Regions from separate parts of the Homo sapiens genome. Here region 2 is linked to region 1. The links come from fine-mapping of genetic effects on gene expression. A gene starts in region 1. The other region holds a variant in brackets. All regions are shown on one strand. Distances are from middle to middle.

Region 1 (8,329 bases):
GGCATGAAAGGAAGTCAGGCTCATATCCCTGCCTGGCTGGGAGGGCCCTACAGCCTGCAGAACTTAGGAGGGGAGCTGAGCCTTACTTAGTGAGCATCTACTTGACCCTGGCTCTATTAATTAATTATTTATTATTATTATTTGTAGAGAACGAGGTCTCCCTATGTTGTCCAGGCTGATCTTGAACTCCTGGGCTCAAATGATCATCCCACCTCAGCCTCCAGTCTGGGATTACAAGCTGGAGCCACAGTGCCCAGCTGACCCCGGCTCTTCATATGTAGAACCTCAGTTGGATTCAGGAGACTGGGGTTCTGAAATGAGTACCTGTGGATGGGGCACTGGCTCACGTAGACAGAAATGGCTTGGCCTAAAGAAGATGATCGACAGAAGGTGCTAGTGAGGAGGTTTTGAGAAAACAGCCAGGGAAAGAAGAAGCCACTTCACAGGGAGGGGCCCCCTGCCAGGACCCAGGGATGGGGCCGCAGAGAGGAAAGCTGACCTGCCGCCCCAGCACAGCAGGCAGCACGTGCTCAGATGTGCTTCCTCATCCACTGCCTTTCATCCTCCCAAGAACCTGGGAAGGGAAACATCACTCTTGTCACAGGCCAAGAAACTGCCAGAGACAACCACAGGCTGTCAGTCTGAACCTTGAGTGGCCTGGACTCCAGCGGGAGGACCCTGTCAGCAGTGTCTCTGGGCTGGCTGAGAGGCTGGCAGCCCAGTCCTGGAGAGAGGCACATCAAAGGCTGGGAGCGCAGATGCCACTTACAGGTTTACAACTTCCACAAGCACAGGCTTCTCTGTCCTGGCCTGGGGAGCTGTGAGAGGAAACTCCCAGGAAGGAGGGACTCTGGGGTATCACAGTCATAAAAGAACAGGACTTAAAGTCCTGAGGCCTGGGTTCCAGCCTTCATTCAGACACCAAACAGTTGAATCACAGAAAGAAACTTCTCCTGAGGCCTCCTTTGTAAATTGTGGGGATTAGACTGGATGATTTCTATGCTTTTAACAACTCTAAATGACCCCAAAATGACTGGAGAAGTCCCCAGCCACACCCTCCAGTGGTGGTTAAGAGCATGGATGCTAGAGCCAGACCATGCTGGCTCAACTATAAACTCTGCCACTTAGTAGCTAAGTTGAACTTGGGCAAGGAATTTAATCATTTCCTACCTCAGTTTCCTTATACAGGAATATCAGCCCCTGTCTTTGCCTGATAGGGTGGTTATGAGAATTCCCTGAGTTCACACATGAAAGGGCAGAGCAGGGCCTGGGGCATGCGAGGTGCTCTTTGTGCATGAGATGCTTCTGCTAGTTGTCAGCACATGCTTGTCTGTCTGTGCCTGCTGGAAATCGTGGGTCAAAAATGTGATTTCCTTTTATTTTTTTTTTTGAGACCGAGTCTCACTCTGTCACCCAGGTTGGAGGGCAGTGGTGCAATCTTGGCTCATTGCAACCTCCGCCTCCCGGGTTCAAGCAATTCTCCTGTCTCAGCCTCCCAAGTAGCTGGGACTACAGGTGCGCACTACCACGCCCAGCTAATTTTTGTATTTTTAGTAGAGATGCAGTTTCACCATATTGGTCAGGCTGGTTTCAAACTCCTGACCTCAAGTGATCCAGCCGCTTCTGCCTCCCAAAGTGCTGGGATGACAGGCGTAAGCCACCGCGCCGGGCCAGAAATGTGATTTCAAATCCATACTTCACATCGGGGTGCATGCAGCTGCTCCCACATGTTCTTTCTCCCTAAGAGTATCCCTTCTTGTGGTTTGACCTTAGAACACTGTTTAGGGTCCAATTTGGGGGCCCATCTTGGGGTGGGAGGATCCTGAGAGGCCCCACACCAGCTGTCAGGCAGGGGACAGGACCAAAAGTTGGGTCTGTCACCTGGGAGCCTCTTTCCTGACTCTCAGGCAGCCTTTAAAGGCGACGCCTTCTGGGATTGAGGATCTCTAAGCTTCCTACCTGACTGGTTTGGAGTTTTCTAAGGAAGGAGGTGAATCAGCACAGTTTACCCCAGCAGTAACTGGCAATCTGGATTCTCCTTGTGGGCAGCAGCCCTGGTGGACTTACAACCGCTCTCTAAGCACTTGACAGAGGCCCTGGCTGGCATGACAGAACAGAAGACTTGCTTTGCTGTGTTCAGATCCTGAGATGGGAGCCCTCAGGCTGGGGCCTCTGAACAGCTAAGGATTCAGCATGAGGAGTGATCCTCAGGAGGATGCAGGGCCTGGGAAGCTAGTAGTTCTCCACAAGGCACAGTTGGCCAGAGGTGAACCAGAGGAACAGGTGGGGCCCACCCAGGACTCCACTGACTGTGCCCACCGTTTGGGGAAGGGAGAACACTGTGACTGTCGTGTGCGTACACGTCTGTCTCCTCCACCTCAGATTCCAAGCATCTCAAAGGCAGAGATCGCCTCTTGGTCACTTCTGTCCCCTTCCCTTACACACCGTAGGTACCTTATACATGGGATCGTGCCATTGCACTCCAGCCTGGGCAACAAGAAAAGGAGGGGCAGGAAGGCCCTGCCCTGAGATGGAGACAGAGAGAGACAAAGAAATGCCATCCTGCCCACAACAGAGGGGAGGCTAGGCCCTGTCCCTCAGTCTCATGACTGCCTGGGTCCTTAGTCCCTAACCTCCTGGGAACTGTCCCCCCTCTCACCCCCATACATCAGAGCTGAACTGGCCACTTGCCCTCTCTGTCTGAGTTAATGGCACTTTTCTTCTCCCAGGCAGAAACCCTGGAGTGATCCTTGTTTCTTGCTCATGTGGGTCAGGCCTGTGGCCATTCACACCTGGTCTCTGCCACCAGTTGTCCCTTCCTTTCTCTTCTCACTGCCACCTCCTAGTTCCCCTCATCTGCTATGCAGCAGCCTTGGAGTGGTTTTTCCTGCACCAAACCACTCCTCATGTCATTGAGTCAATCATATCACTTTCAACATGTCATTCCCCAGCTCAAAAGCACTTTTCTGATTATGAGAGAAAATCTAACCTGGGCATTTGATGCTGGTTACAATCGACTTTGATCTGGCCTTTCCGTAGACTTTCCTTGACTTACAGTCTCAGACACATTCCGAAATCCCACCTAAGCTTCAAAGCACAGCTCTAACCCCTCATCCTTGAGGGGCCGTGGGGCACCTCCCTGTCTGCCGCTTGAGGCCTCCACGCTCACTGGGTCACTCGGCCTGCACAGCCACTACTGCGGCTCATGTGCACAAGTCCAGGGGTCTCTCCCAGCTCGTGGAGGGAGGTGCTCAGGCTTGGACGCCAGCACTGGAAGGGCCGTGGAAAGGAATCGGCCAACCCTCCTGTTAAAAGACGTGGAAACAGGAGCGGAGGCTGTACAGCAAATCAAAGCCGGGGCTCGGATCCCCCCGTCCGGGGCGCAGCCCCGCTCCGCATTTCCCCGGGCCTCGCATCCCTTGGGTGGTCATAACGCGCGCGAACTGACCGGAGCAAGTGGGAAAGCAGGGGAAGCCAGGAGGGCAGGGCCAAGAAGGGGGAAGGCGTAGAACGAGCGCCGGGGTCGCCAGGGCCCGCACGCCCGGCAGGGCCCAGACTCACTTTGCCGAGAGCGTGTTGATGGAGCCGGTAACAAGCATGAGCCCGGCCAGGAACAGCTGGTACTTGGTCCAGGCCATGTCGGCGGACGCTGGGGTTCGCTCCAGTTAGCGGCGCCGGGCCCCGTCACCCGGGGTCTCCTGCGCGAGCGCTTCCGGGCCGGGCGTCACGTGACCCCTCCTGCTCGCCCCGCCCCCGGGGAGCGCGCCTGAGCCACGGTGCCCGCGCTCTGCCGAGTCGTCCTGGAGCGCTTTGGTGGCCACGCCGTGGCCCTGGCAAATCACGGCCCAGGCCTTCCAGTTTTTTTTTTCTTTTCTTCCTCACTCTCCCCCGCCTTTTTGGGTTTCTTTTTTCTATTTTTTTGAGAAGGAGTCTCACTCTGTCGCCCAGGCTGGAGTGCAATGGCATGATCTCGGCTCACTGCAATATCCGCCTCCTGGGTTCAAGCGATTCTCCTGCTTCAGCCTCCCGAGTAGCTCGGATTACAGGCGCCCTTCACCACGCCCGGCTAATTTTTTGTATTTTTAGTAGAGACAGGGCTTCACCATGTTGGCCAGGCTGGTCTCGAACTCCCGACCTCAGGTGATCCGCCCTCCTCCGCATCCCAAAGTATTGGGATTACAGGCGTGAACCACCGCGCCTGGCCTTGGTTTCTTATTTTTATCTTTGGGTCTTCCTATTTGTAAAAGGGGCGGATGGGACAGTGCAGTGAGGGTGCATCGTGGCTATTACAGCATTTTGTGAATCGTTTTGAGAGGTTGAGCTGGGCGGTGTCAGAAAGGAGCCCTGAAGTGGGCCTGCCGGGAGTTCCTTGGGGACCCTGTAGAGAGGAGATTCCCACGCTGGACGTTTCCACTTCGGGGCTCCTATCTGATACCGCCCACCTTGGGCACAGTTCATATCTTTCAGCAAAGTGGCGAAGGCATCTAGCTCCAGTTGCCGAGGACACCATTTTATAGCTGAGGACAGTAAATTCAGCGAAGCAGAGTGATTTGCTTAAGAACCTGCTGGTGAGCAGTGGGGTAGGGATTTGCGCTTGGGTTCTCCAGTCTCCAAAAATCCGTGCCTTCCGCATGGCCTCTGCACCAAGCCCTGCTTCACTGCTCCTTTGTGGACTTTCTGGTCGCAGCTGAGGCATCCAGGCAGAAAGACCATCCCTAGGTTTGTTTGAAGAGGGTGTTGACGAAGAGTCACACTCTAAAATATTTGAAGGGATTTATTCTGAGCCAAATATTTGTGACCATGGCCCGTGACACAGCCCTCAGGAGGTCCTGAGAACATGTGCCCAAAGTGGTCGGGGCGCAGCATTTTAGAAAGACACGAGACATCAATCAAATACATTTAAGAAATACATTGGTTTGGTCCAGAAAGGTAGGACAACTCAAAGCCGGGAGGAGGGGAGAGGGTGGGGCAGGAAACGGGAAAAATATCTATCTATGTTAATAGAGATTTTTGTTTTTTTTTGAGACGGAGTCTTGCTCTGTCGCCCAGGCTGGAGTGCAGTGGTGCGATCTCGGCTCACTGCAACCTCCACCTCCCGGATTCAATCAGTTCTCTGCCTCAGCCTCCCAAGTAGCTGGGACTACAGGTGCCTGCCACCACGCCTGGCTAAATTTTGTATTTCTAGTAGAGATGGGGGGGGTCTCACCATGTTGGCCAGGCTGGTCTTGAACTCCTGATCCACCTGCCTCGGCCTCCCAAAGTGCTGGGATTACAGGCGTGATCCGCCACGCCCGGCCGGTAATAGAGATTCTTTACAGATGCAAATTTTCCCCCACAAAAGACAGATTTGCAGGGCCATTTCAAGATATGGCAAAGAAAAATGTTTTGGGGTAAAATCTTTTGACTTTCTTCTTAGTCACATAATATTATGCCAGAGTCAGATTGGAAAGTAAGTCATGATATATAGGGTTAAATAAAACCCATCTGATGAGAATTTATGGTTTGTAGGGCATGACTCTCCAGACCTCTTAGGTAGGAATTTGGGCAAGGTAAAAAAAATCAGAGCTTAGTCCTCAAGGGGTTCTGGTGTTTAAAATCCTACTCTTGGCTGGGTGTGGTGGTTCACACCTATAATCCTAGCACTTTGGGAGGCTGAAGCGGGCTGATTGCTTGAGCTCAGGATTTCCAGACAAGCCTGGGCAACATGGCAAAACTCAGTCTCTACTAAAAATGCAAAAATTAGCTGAGTGTCATGACAAGTACCCATAATCCCAGCTACTCAGGAGGCTAAGTAGGAGGATCGCTTGAGTCCCTGGAGGTGGAGGTTGCAATGAACTGAGATCATGCCACTATACTCCGGCCTGGGTGGCAAAGTGACACCCTGTCTTAAAAAAAGAAAAAAAAAAGGCCAGGCGCGGTGGCTCGCACCTGTAATCCCAGCACTTTGGGAGGCTGAGGCAGGTGGATCACCTGAGGTCGGAATTCAAGATCAGCCTGACCAACATGGTGAAACCCCATCTCTACTAAAATACAAAAAATTAGCCAGGTGTGGGGGTGCATGCTTGTAATCTCAGCTACTCCGGAGGCTGAGGCAGGAGAATCGCTTGAACCTGGGAGATGGAAGTTGCAGTGAGCCAAGATCGAGCCATTGCACTCCAGCCTGGGCAACAAGCGCGAAAACTCCATCTCAAAAAAAAAAAAAAAAAGAAAGAAAAAGAAAAGAAAAAACTGCTCCTAATATGCCTTTCCCAGTGCTCTAGTCTGCACCCATGCCCTGTCACGCCAGCGACAAGATCCTTTTGTTACCAGAAAGGGGTTCTGATCCAGACCTCAAGAGAGGGTTCTTGGACCTGGCACCTTGCGGGGAATCCATAAAGTGAAAACAAGTTTATTAAGAAAGTAAAGGATAAAGAATGGCTACTCCATTGGCAGAGCAGCCCCGAGGGCTGCTGATTGGTTATTTTTATGGATATTTCTGGATTATATGCCAAACAAGGGGTGGATTATTCATGAGTTTTCTGGGAAAGGGGTGGGCAATTGCCAGAACTAAGTGTTCCTCCCCTTTTTAGACCATGTAGGTTAACTTCCAGTTGCTACCATGGCATCTGTAAACTGTCGCGCGCTGGTGCGAGTGTCTTTTAGCATGCTAATGCATTATAAATAGTGTATAACAAGCAGTGAGAAAAACCAGAGGTCACTTTTGTCGCCATCTTGGTTTTGGTGGGTTTTGGCCGGCTTCTTTACTGCATCCTGTTTTATCAGCAAGGTCTTTGTGACCTGTACCTTGTGCCCACTTCCTATCTCGACCTGTGACTTAGAATGCCTAACCTCCTGGGAATGCAGCCCAGTAGGTCTCAGCCTCGTTTTACCCAGCCCCTGTTCAAGATGGAGTTGCTCTGATTTAAATGTCTCTGACACTTTGGAAAACGACTTCAGACCGAGCCAACACACTTCCCCTATGCTGCAGATCTTGTTTCTGTGGTGAGAAAAGAACTTTTACCTGAGGAATGCGAGTCCTGTAAGTTATCAGGCCCAGAGAGACATTAAAATAAGACAGCAATCACGTCCTACTCCCACTTTGAGTTATGTATTTATGTCTTGAAACTGCTTGCTATTGCCACAGGTAGCTATAACCTAACAATGCTGCACTGGACACCATATCTTACATCCTATAGCACTGTACAGCCAATCACTAATCAATGTTATTTCTGTAAACCAATGAGAATTTCTGACAAACAACTTTGTATCAGCCCACTCCCTGTCCTCCTTTTTCTGCCTTTAAAAACCTGTTTGTAACAAAGAGAGAAGGGAGCTCACATCCAAGATTACTTGCGTCTGAGTCTTTTGGGCAGCTGTCCTCATTTTGGCTCAAGTAAACTGTTTAACTTATATTTTGTGCCTTGGCACCTTCTTGTTTTTTTTAAGATGAAGTGGTGCTCTGTCGTCCAGTCTGGAGTGCAGTGGCACATTCTTGGCTCACTACAACTTCTGCCTCCCAGGTTCAAGCAATTCCCCTGCCTCAGCCTCCCGAGTAGCTGGGATTACAGGTGAGCACCACCATGCCCAGCTACATTTTTTGTATTTATAGTCGAGATGGGGTTTCACCGTGTTGGCCAGGCTGGTCTTGAACTCCTGACCTCAAGTGATCCACCCACCTTGGCCTCCCAAAGTGTTGGGATTACAGGTGTAAGCCACCACGCCCAGATGGCTAGCAACTTCATTTTAGATGAACAGGAGGTGGCCCGTGTGGTGGCTCACACCTGTTATCCTAGCACTTTGGGAGGCTGAGGCCTCCTAATCCCAGGAATTTGAGAGCAGCTTGGGCAACATAGCCAGACCCTCATCTCTACAAAAACACTTAAAAATTAGTCAGGGGTGGTAGTGCGGGCCTGTGAGCCCAGTTACTGGAGAAGCTGAGGCAGGAGGATTGCTTGAGCACAGGACTTTGAGGCTGCAGTAAACCGTGGTCATGCCCCTGCACTTCAGCCTGGGCAACAGAGCAAGACCCTATCTCACACACACACAAATTTTTTAAATTAAACAAATAGATCAACAAGAGGTACAGAGATAGGACCTGTCTGCCAACTCCTCCTACTTGCCCTAAGACAGCCTCGAACTTGTGAAAAAGGCCAGAGTGGACGCAGAACTCTCAAGGGGCTGCACCAGACTCCCTTATTGCAGGAAGACCTGCTGGAGAAGGTGTATAAGTGGGATCCTGGAAAAAACATAGGAGGTCCCCAGATAGACAGCAGAAGGGCTTTCTTGCAGATGGACATGGCATGTACAGCGGTGCAGAGGTGTGAGTGTGGAACAAGCCTGGGACCCACAG
Region 2 (8,329 bases), 28 kb before region 1:
AGAACTTGGTGCATCTCTTTAATCTGTCTCTGAACTCAGTTGACTGACACATCATTATTAGTAGTCTGCCCTCACTAATCATTTTCATCACATACAGATCTCATATCTTTGGGTGACACTTCCCATGTCTCTGGAAATCTTTTAAATTGCTTTCAGTTACAACAGAAGGGCAAGGTTTTCATCTAGTCATACTCTACTCCACCAGAGGCAAAACCACCTCCCTTAATTATCTTGTTTAAATTGTGGCTGTTCGCCCCGTCCGGGAGGTGAGGGGTGCCTCTGCCCGGCCGCCCCTACTGGGAAGTGAGGAGCCCCTCTGCCCGGCCAGCCGCCCCCTCCGGGAGGGAGGAGGAGGGGTCAGCCCCCCGCCCGGCCAGCCGCCCCGTCCGGGAGGTGAGGGGCGCCCCTGCCCGGCCACCCCTTCTGGGAAGTGAGGAGCCCCTCTGCCCAGCCACCACCCCATCTGGGAGGTGTACCCAACAGCTCACTGAGAACGGGCCATGATGACAATGGCGGTTTTGTGGAATAGAAAGGGGGGAAAGGTGGGGGAAAGATTGAGAAATCGGATGGTTGCCGTGTCTGTGTAGAAAGAAGTAGACATGGGAAACTTTTCATTTTGTTCTGTACTAAGAAAAATTCTTCTGCCTTGGGATCCTGTTGATCTGTGACCTTACCCCCAACCCTGTGCTCTCTGAAACATGTGCTGTGTCCACTCAGGGTTAAATGGATTAAGGGCGGTGCAAGATGTGCTTTGTTAAACAGATGCTTGAAGGCAGCATGCTCATTAAGAGTCATCACCACTCCCTAATCTCAAGTACCCAGGGACACAAACACTGCGGAAGGCCGCAGGGTCCTCTGCCTCGGAAAACCAGAGACCTTTGTTCACTTGTTTATCTGCTGACCTTCCCTCCACTATTGTCCTATGACCCTGCCAAATCCCCCTCTGCGAGAAACACCCAAGAATGATCAATAAAAAAAAAGACTCCATCTCAAAAAAAAAAAAAAGAAAAAAAAATTGTGGCTGTTTGCAAACAAATAAAGAACTTATTTTTAACACACAAAAAGTACAGTATAATCTCTATGCTGTAACAGTAAGTCCATTTTCATTAAATATTTTGATTTTTATTATCTCTCTACAAAGAAACTACAAAAATACCCATAAAAGCATCGAAAATGTACTTTAAAATTCTGAACTGTTATGATACATCTTCTATGATTTACAAGAGTAAAATGTTAAATTCTCCAAGTTAGAATTTCTGAATTGATTTTGACAGGAATTTACTAGAAGTAACCAGAACATCAAAGCTTACAGGTTTTCTATTCATCCCCAATTAAGTTTCTGAAAAGCTACACATCCGTTGACAAGCACAGTCCACTCAGTTACATGATGCTGCCACTAATGGTGAGGCTACTCTGAAGGGCAGAGGTCTATATGATGGAAATGCCCAGCCTTCCAGGCAACTGCTCAAAGTGGTCTTATTTTTTCCCTTATGTGTAAAATAAAAGTACAAATGTACATATGGTAAAAAATGTAAATATTACAGAAAGAGCTAAAATAATAAGTACATAGCCTTTTCTCCCATACCACAGCAAATCTGATGTTTTCAAAATCCTCAAATAGTCACATGAGTAACTCACAAACTAAAGTCAACCTTGGAGTCTCTTTATCTGAAAATTATTTTCAGGCCTTTGGAACGGTGTTGATTGTCTCATATATTACCTCTGTTACAGAGGAAAGTCATGCAGTCTTCTCCTTCTCAAAAAAAAGAAAAATATTTAAAGCAACACACACATACTGTTCAGAGACAGCAAAGTCCAGACAGCATCGCAGAATCCATTGGATCTAGTCATGGCTCTGGAGAGTCCCCGGTATCATCCCTGAAATTAAGGAAGCACACTTACTAACAAGCCATTTTCAAAAGTAAGAAAACTTTCTCTTAATCAAAAAAGAGAAAGTTTTTATTAGAAAGTGTTCTCTTTTATTAGAAAGTTTATTAGAAAGTTTTCTCTTAATCAAAATGAGGTCATCTGATTCTTGTAATCTCAACACTTTGGGAGGCCAAGGCAGGAGTTGCAGTGAGCCACGATGGCAACACTGATGACAGAGACCCTGTCTTATAAAAATAAAACAACAACAATAACAACCAAAAGAAATTAGGGTCATCTGGTTATTATTTAATAGAAAGATATCTTTTATCTAACATTGCACAAAAGGGCACAAACCACATTGTCCCAGGCAGTCAAAACTAGATCAACCTTTACTAGAGAACAAAGGGAAGGCGAGGTGACAAGGGACTATGGATGGAGAAAGGAAATTACTTGAGAAATTCCAGCCCCAGTCCTGTGAAAGAGGATGAGCTTACCCCCTGGCTGAGCAGGAAAGACTGACAGAAACACTGGGTGCAGGAGCTCAGCCGAGTCCCTCCTCAAGGCCCCGGATCCTCCGGGCCAGTTGCACATCCTTTGGGAAGAGAGTAACTCGGCCTGCATGTAAGGTGAGGAGATAGGCGTCCTCAAAGAGATGAACTAGAAATGCTTCTGCTGCCTGGAGACAGAAAGAGAAAAAGACGGACACAGATGAAGGGCCACGGGCTGCTTTTTTTTGGAAACCTGCTAAACTTAATCTCTGAGGGCTCAAAGGATTGTAGGAAACTATTCACAGAATGAGACTGAACTTTGCCAGGGAATTCTGCTATCACCACGCAGAATCCAGCCTCCAAACCCTCAGAGGTTACCTCATTGTTCTTTTCCAGAGGTCAGATTCAGCATGTGACACTCCAGTCAGCACTGGAGAATTCTAGGCTGCCTCTTTCTCCCACTCAGCCCTCACCCAATTGTGCCTTGGTGCCTTCTTACCTCTTGTAGGGCCAATAGGGCCTGGGCTTGCCAATTGAAGTCCACACCACGAGTGAATTTAACACATATTTCTCTTGCCTGTGAAGGAGTGGGGAAGGGGAGGAGTAGGAGTAGGGAGTAACAGAAGAGAGATTCAAGGGACAATGATGCTCTCCATGAGTTCCAGTGAATCTTCCTTTCCATTATTTTTTCCTGGCTCTTAATCTTAGGACCCAATTAGGAGCAGGTGTTGACTCCTGGGAGCTTAGGAACTGGCGGATCTCTTACTGGTGATGGGGAAATCACCAGTAATTGGGTGATGAGAGGCAATCTCCCAGGATAGGAAAAGGGATCTAAGGTGGACAAACGAGAGAGTTCCTATTTATACAGTCAAAAACTACAGTTTTAAAAAGGTAGTAGAGGTTAGAAATCAATTCCATAAAGAATTACAAGGTGCTCTTGGAGGGCTCATGTTTTCAGAAAAGAATCCCCTACCAGGTTACAAAAGAGGTCCCTTGGCCAGTTAGTTAAGAGACAGTAGGGTCCCTAATACCTGGGAAAATTTAAAAAAAGGAGGGTGGCATAGGGGTTGGTGGGAAGCTCCCGGAGCTTACCAGGCGGCTGAAGGGCAGCTTCCTTATCAAGAGGTGTGTGCTCTTCTGAAGCTTTCGGATCTCCTTTAGCCAACCTTGTCTCCGCCGACTGTGTTGATGGGAGGAAGCGCCTGAGCAAAAGAAAGGTAAGTTCAGTGGAAAATAGGTGGTGCCTCGCAGCTTGGCTGAGTCAGGTAAGCTGTCAAATTGCTAGACTATATCTATGTGCCTACCCTCCACAGAGCAGGGATTTTTGTCTGTTTTATTAGGTTGCTGCAAAAGTCATTGCAGTTATGGCAAAAACCACAATACTTTTGCACCAACCTGATATATAGTAATTTTGCTGCTATCTTCAGCAATTAGAAAATAGCAGATAGGTGCTAAATAAACATTTGTTAAATGAATGAGTGAATGATCCTCTGCAGTTGATTTTAAATGCTAACTCTTCCATGAAGTCTTTCCCGAATCCTGATCCTTCCAAACAGATGGGTGACCGCCCTCCTCTGGGCTTTGCAGGACTTTGTACAAGTCTTAGATCTTTCCCACCTAGATTGGAAGCTCAGTTATTTTGGTTTTAGATTTTTTGTTGGTTTGTTTTTTACAGCTGGAAAGAATCTGAGAGACTAGTACAATTCCCTTGTCTTGATCATCCTGAGGCCCAGCGAGGTGAAGATGGTTGGCCAGCCCTCATTAGTGGCCAAGCTGAGACCTGTGTAAGGTGTGGCCTAACTCAGTGTCAGTGTCAGGCACCTGGGCTGTGGAGACAGAGCCTTTGGCTCAAATCCTGGTTCCAACAAGAACAAAAAAGAAAATAATTTTAAAAACATTCCCAAAAGTAGGAATCAAAAAAGCCAAATTCTCTAATTGGAAATTAAAAACTCATGAATCAAAAACCAGTTTCTTCTAACTAACCTGTGTTGAAGAGGAAACTTAATTGAAATTAGACTATTTGGAAATGAATAACAATAAAAAGCCCATATCCCAAAACTTATGAGATACAGCCAAAATAGTACTAGAGGAAAATGCATAGCCTTAAAGTGTTCCTATTAGAAAACAAGAACACTAAAAGGTATCTGAGCCAAGCAGTCAAATTAAGTATTACAGAGTTATTAAAGTAAACCAAAACAAGATAGAACAAAAGAAATATTAGAAAATAAGTTAGTGAAAATAAAGTTAAAGAAAAAACAGCACAGTTGCTCCATAATTACAACCAAGGATCAAGATGAGTGAAC[A/G]TCTGATAAGTTGAACAAACAAAATACAAAAATAACATGTTGACGGATAAAATTGTTTCAGAAATGTTATTCAGGATCCAGCCAAGCAAAGAGACTCTACACCAAGTTCGATAGAAGGCATTTAATACAATAAACTAATCACGAAGTGTTAGAAGAGCTGCAAGAGCAAGTAGGGTAGGTGAGACAATCCAGAGATGGCCTGTGCCAGGCAGCCAGCAGAGGAGACCATCCCTGGGTGAGGCTAGAGAACACAGGCCAATGAAACAGGGCAGTGTCCAGAAGACTGATAACATTTAAAACTGGGAAGACCCATGCCCAGGAGAAAAACTACTGACACCTCCCTCCCTCCCCACCACCAGTTGGCAATCCAGTCACTGGAGGCAGTCTTTAATAAACAGACATAGGGCTGGGTGCGGTGGCTCACGCCTGTAATCCCAGCACTTTGGGAGGCCAAGGTGGGTCAATCACCTGAGGTCAGGAGTTCGAGACCAGCCTGATGAACATGGAGAAACCCATCTCTACTAAAAATACAAAAATTAGCCGGGCATGGTGGCAGGCACCTGTAATCCCAGCTACTTGGGAGGCTGAGGCAGGAGAATTGCTTGAACCCAGGAGATGGAGGTTGCAGTGAGCCAAGCTCGCACCACTGTACTCTAGCCTGGGCAACAAGAATGAGACTGTGTCTCAAACAAAAATATATAAATAAATAAAATAAAATAAAAAAATAAACAAGACATAGCATTCACAGAAAATTTGAAGATGAACACAACTAAAGATCACCCAACAATTTAAGAAGGCCAATACCATGAAAGAAAGGAACCAAACTCAACAAACAAAATAGCCAATACCAGAGGAAATTGAGTTAATAGAGAAAAGAAATAGAAACTTTGAGAGAAAAATGGTTAATGAACTCAGAGAGGTAACAGAGATATGAAATCCATGACCCAAGAACAAGTGGTTATGAAAAGTAACCAATTAGAGAGATCATGGAAAAGAACTGGGATCAAAAATTTAGTAGCTGGGTCTTGAAATGCCAACATGAGGAGATGGAATTTAATCCTACTGTAATAAGAAGCCAGGGAAGAGTTTTATGCAGGATAGAGATGTGGAAGGTCATTCCAGCTGCTGTGTAAGGAAAGAAGTAGAAAGGGACAGAGTGGAAGTGGAGTGGCAGCTGATTAGGAGGCTCTCACAGTTGCTCGAGAGCTGCTGGTAGCTTGGACTAGGCTAGTGGGAGCAGAGATGGTGAAAATGGAGTGATTAAGGATGCAGTTTGGAAGTAGAATTATCTGGACCTGCATTTGTATTGGAGACGGGGGTCTCCCAGGCTTGTGGTTTGAACAACTGGGTGGGTAGTTGTGCCATTTACTGAAATGGGGAAGCTGAGGATGAAGGGGCTGGAGGGGAGTAACCAGAAGTTCAGTTTTGGGTGTGTTAAGTTTAACATAACCAAGAGCCTTCAGGTAGAAAGGCAGTTAGATATAGGTATCTGGGGTCAGAGGAGAGATCCAGGTATACAGATATTTGAGAGCTGTCAATGTATGAGTGGGATTTAGAGCCACGGAGGAGATGAGACCACCTAGGGAGGGGGTAGAAAGGAAAAGGATGTCAAGGAAGTCCAACATCAAGGAGCCGAGGGAGGCAGCACAGGCAGTAGAGAACACCAAGCAGAACTGCCAGAGTGCACAGTGGCATGGAAGCCAAGGGAACAGAACGCTTCAAGGAGAAAGAGGCCCACTGCGTCAAATGCTTCTGAGACACAGTAAGAACACAGACCCACCTACTGGATTTGGCACTACAAAAGGTGCTAGTGACCCTGACAGGAGTAGTTCAAGCAGATTAGAAGTGGGGGTAGTGGTTGTGGGGAGTCAGATTGGAGTGGGTTGTAGGGTCACTAGGAAGGGAGGAATCAGATGCAATGTATGTGGACCTAACAAGTCTGGCTATTTTAAAAGGACAGCTATGAAGGGAAGTAGAGGGAAATGGGAGGTATAGGGAAGTGAGAATGTGGGGTCAAGGAAACACTCCTGCCCTTTCTCTTAAGATCGTAAATACGGCCAGGCGCAGCGGCTCAGGCCTGTAATCCCAGCACTCTGGGAGGCCAAGGTGGGCGGATCACTTGAGGTTGGCAGTTGGAGACCAGCCTGACCAACATGGTGAAACCCCGTCTCTACTAAAAACACAAAATTAGCCGGATGCGGTGGTGCATGCCTGTAATCCTAGCTACTCGGGAGGCTGAGGCAGGAGAATCGCTTGAACCCGGGAGGTAGAGGTTGCGGTAAGCCGAGATCACGCCGTTGCTCTCCAGCCTGGGCAACAAGAGGGAAACTCCGTCTCAAAAACAAAAACAAAAACAAAACAAAACAAAACATCATAAATACTAGAGCATATGTGCCGATGCCAGTGTGAAGTGTCTGGATTTATCTAAGCACAGGTAGAAAGCTCCTCTGTAGGTGAAAGAAGGATATGACCAAGACCCCATGTAGAAGGAAGGGCTTTGATAGGAAGGGGGACACCTAGTCAAGGCCATTATTGGCTAAGAGTGAGTGGGGGGAATGGAGCTGTAGGAAGTCGAGGAGGGAGAAAAAGGTATGAAATAGTCATGGGGAGAATGGAAAAGCAAGAATTCCAGACAAAGGCCAGGCACGATGGCTGTTTTTTTTTTGTTCTGTAGAGACAAAACAATTTGTCTCTACAAAAAAGGTTTAAAAATAGTCAAGCATGGTGGTGCAGGTCTGTCATCCTAGCTATTCAGGAGGGTGAAGCAGGAGGACTGCATGAGCCCAGGAGGTCAAGGCTGCAATGAACCAAGATAGCACCACTGCACTACAGCCTGGATGACAAGAGTGAGACTCTGTCTCGAAAATTGAAGAAAGAATACCAGACAAAGGTGGTAGGACTGCCAAGAAGTGTTGACTGCCCATTTGAGATAAACCTTCCATTTAACCAGGAGTAGAAGGATGCTTCTACCTTGGAAAGCAACAGCAAACATCATACTTAATATTCCTGTTAAAATTACAAACAAGACAAAGATGACCAAAACACCACTCTTAGTGAGTCTCAGGGCCTTACTAGTACCATACAATAATAAATAAAATGTGTAGAAATGAAAACGGAAGATTCAAAAGTTATTTGCAGATGACATAATAGTCTACTTAAAAATTCCAACTGGAGCAACTAAAAACGACTAGGGTGAACGAGAATTCAGCAAGTTGGCTGGAAGCAAAGGTTAAATCCTCGTGTTTTGGGAAAGAAAAAAAATCCCATTCGCAACAGCAACATCTAGAAACAACCTACTCCAGCCTAGGCAACATGGCAAAATCCCACCTCTACTAAAAATACAAAAAATTAGCCGGCATGGTGGCATATGCCTGTAGTCCCAGCTACTCGGGAGGCTGAGCTGGGAGAAGCACCTGAGCCTGGGAAGTTGAGGCTGCAGTGAACCCTCGTGGCATCACTGCACTCCAACCTGGGCGATGGGTCTCAAAAAAAAAACAACAAAAAACCAAAAAGCCGGCCGGGCGCGGTGGCTCACGCCTGTAATCCCAGCACTTTGGGAGACCGAGGTGGGCGGATCACGAGGTCAGGAGATCAAGACCATCCTGGCTAACACGGTGAAACCCTGTCTCTACCAAAAATACAAAAAATTAGCCGGGCGTGGTGGTAGGC

The links. PIP is the estimated chance that this variant, and not a neighbour inherited with it, causes the effect.
Region 2: its variant is fine-mapped to the expression of SLC35F6 in whole blood (INTERVAL, PIP above 0.99).

Annotation. Positions count from the first base shown.
Region 1 is chr2:26,759,659-26,767,987 of GRCh38, reverse strand. SLC35F6 (solute carrier family 35 member F6) reads right to left here and starts at 3,704. Exons shown (of 6, transcript NM_017877.4): 1 at 3,562-3,704. The coding sequence starts at 3,638. RefSeq lists a silencer at 3,528-3,837 and enhancers at 3,848-4,047, 8,222-8,329.
Region 2 is chr2:26,787,361-26,795,689 of GRCh38, reverse strand. It overlaps CENPA (centromere protein A), which reads right to left. Exons shown (of 5, transcript NM_001809.4): 2 at 3,450-3,559; 3 at 2,857-2,934; 4 at 2,364-2,545; 5 at 1,101-1,878. The coding sequence ends at 2,411. Among named protein-coding and RNA genes, the nearest start is that of CENPA, 5.5 kb to the right of the region's middle. RefSeq lists a silencer at 783-983. The variant A/G (reference allele first, on the strand shown) is at 4,661.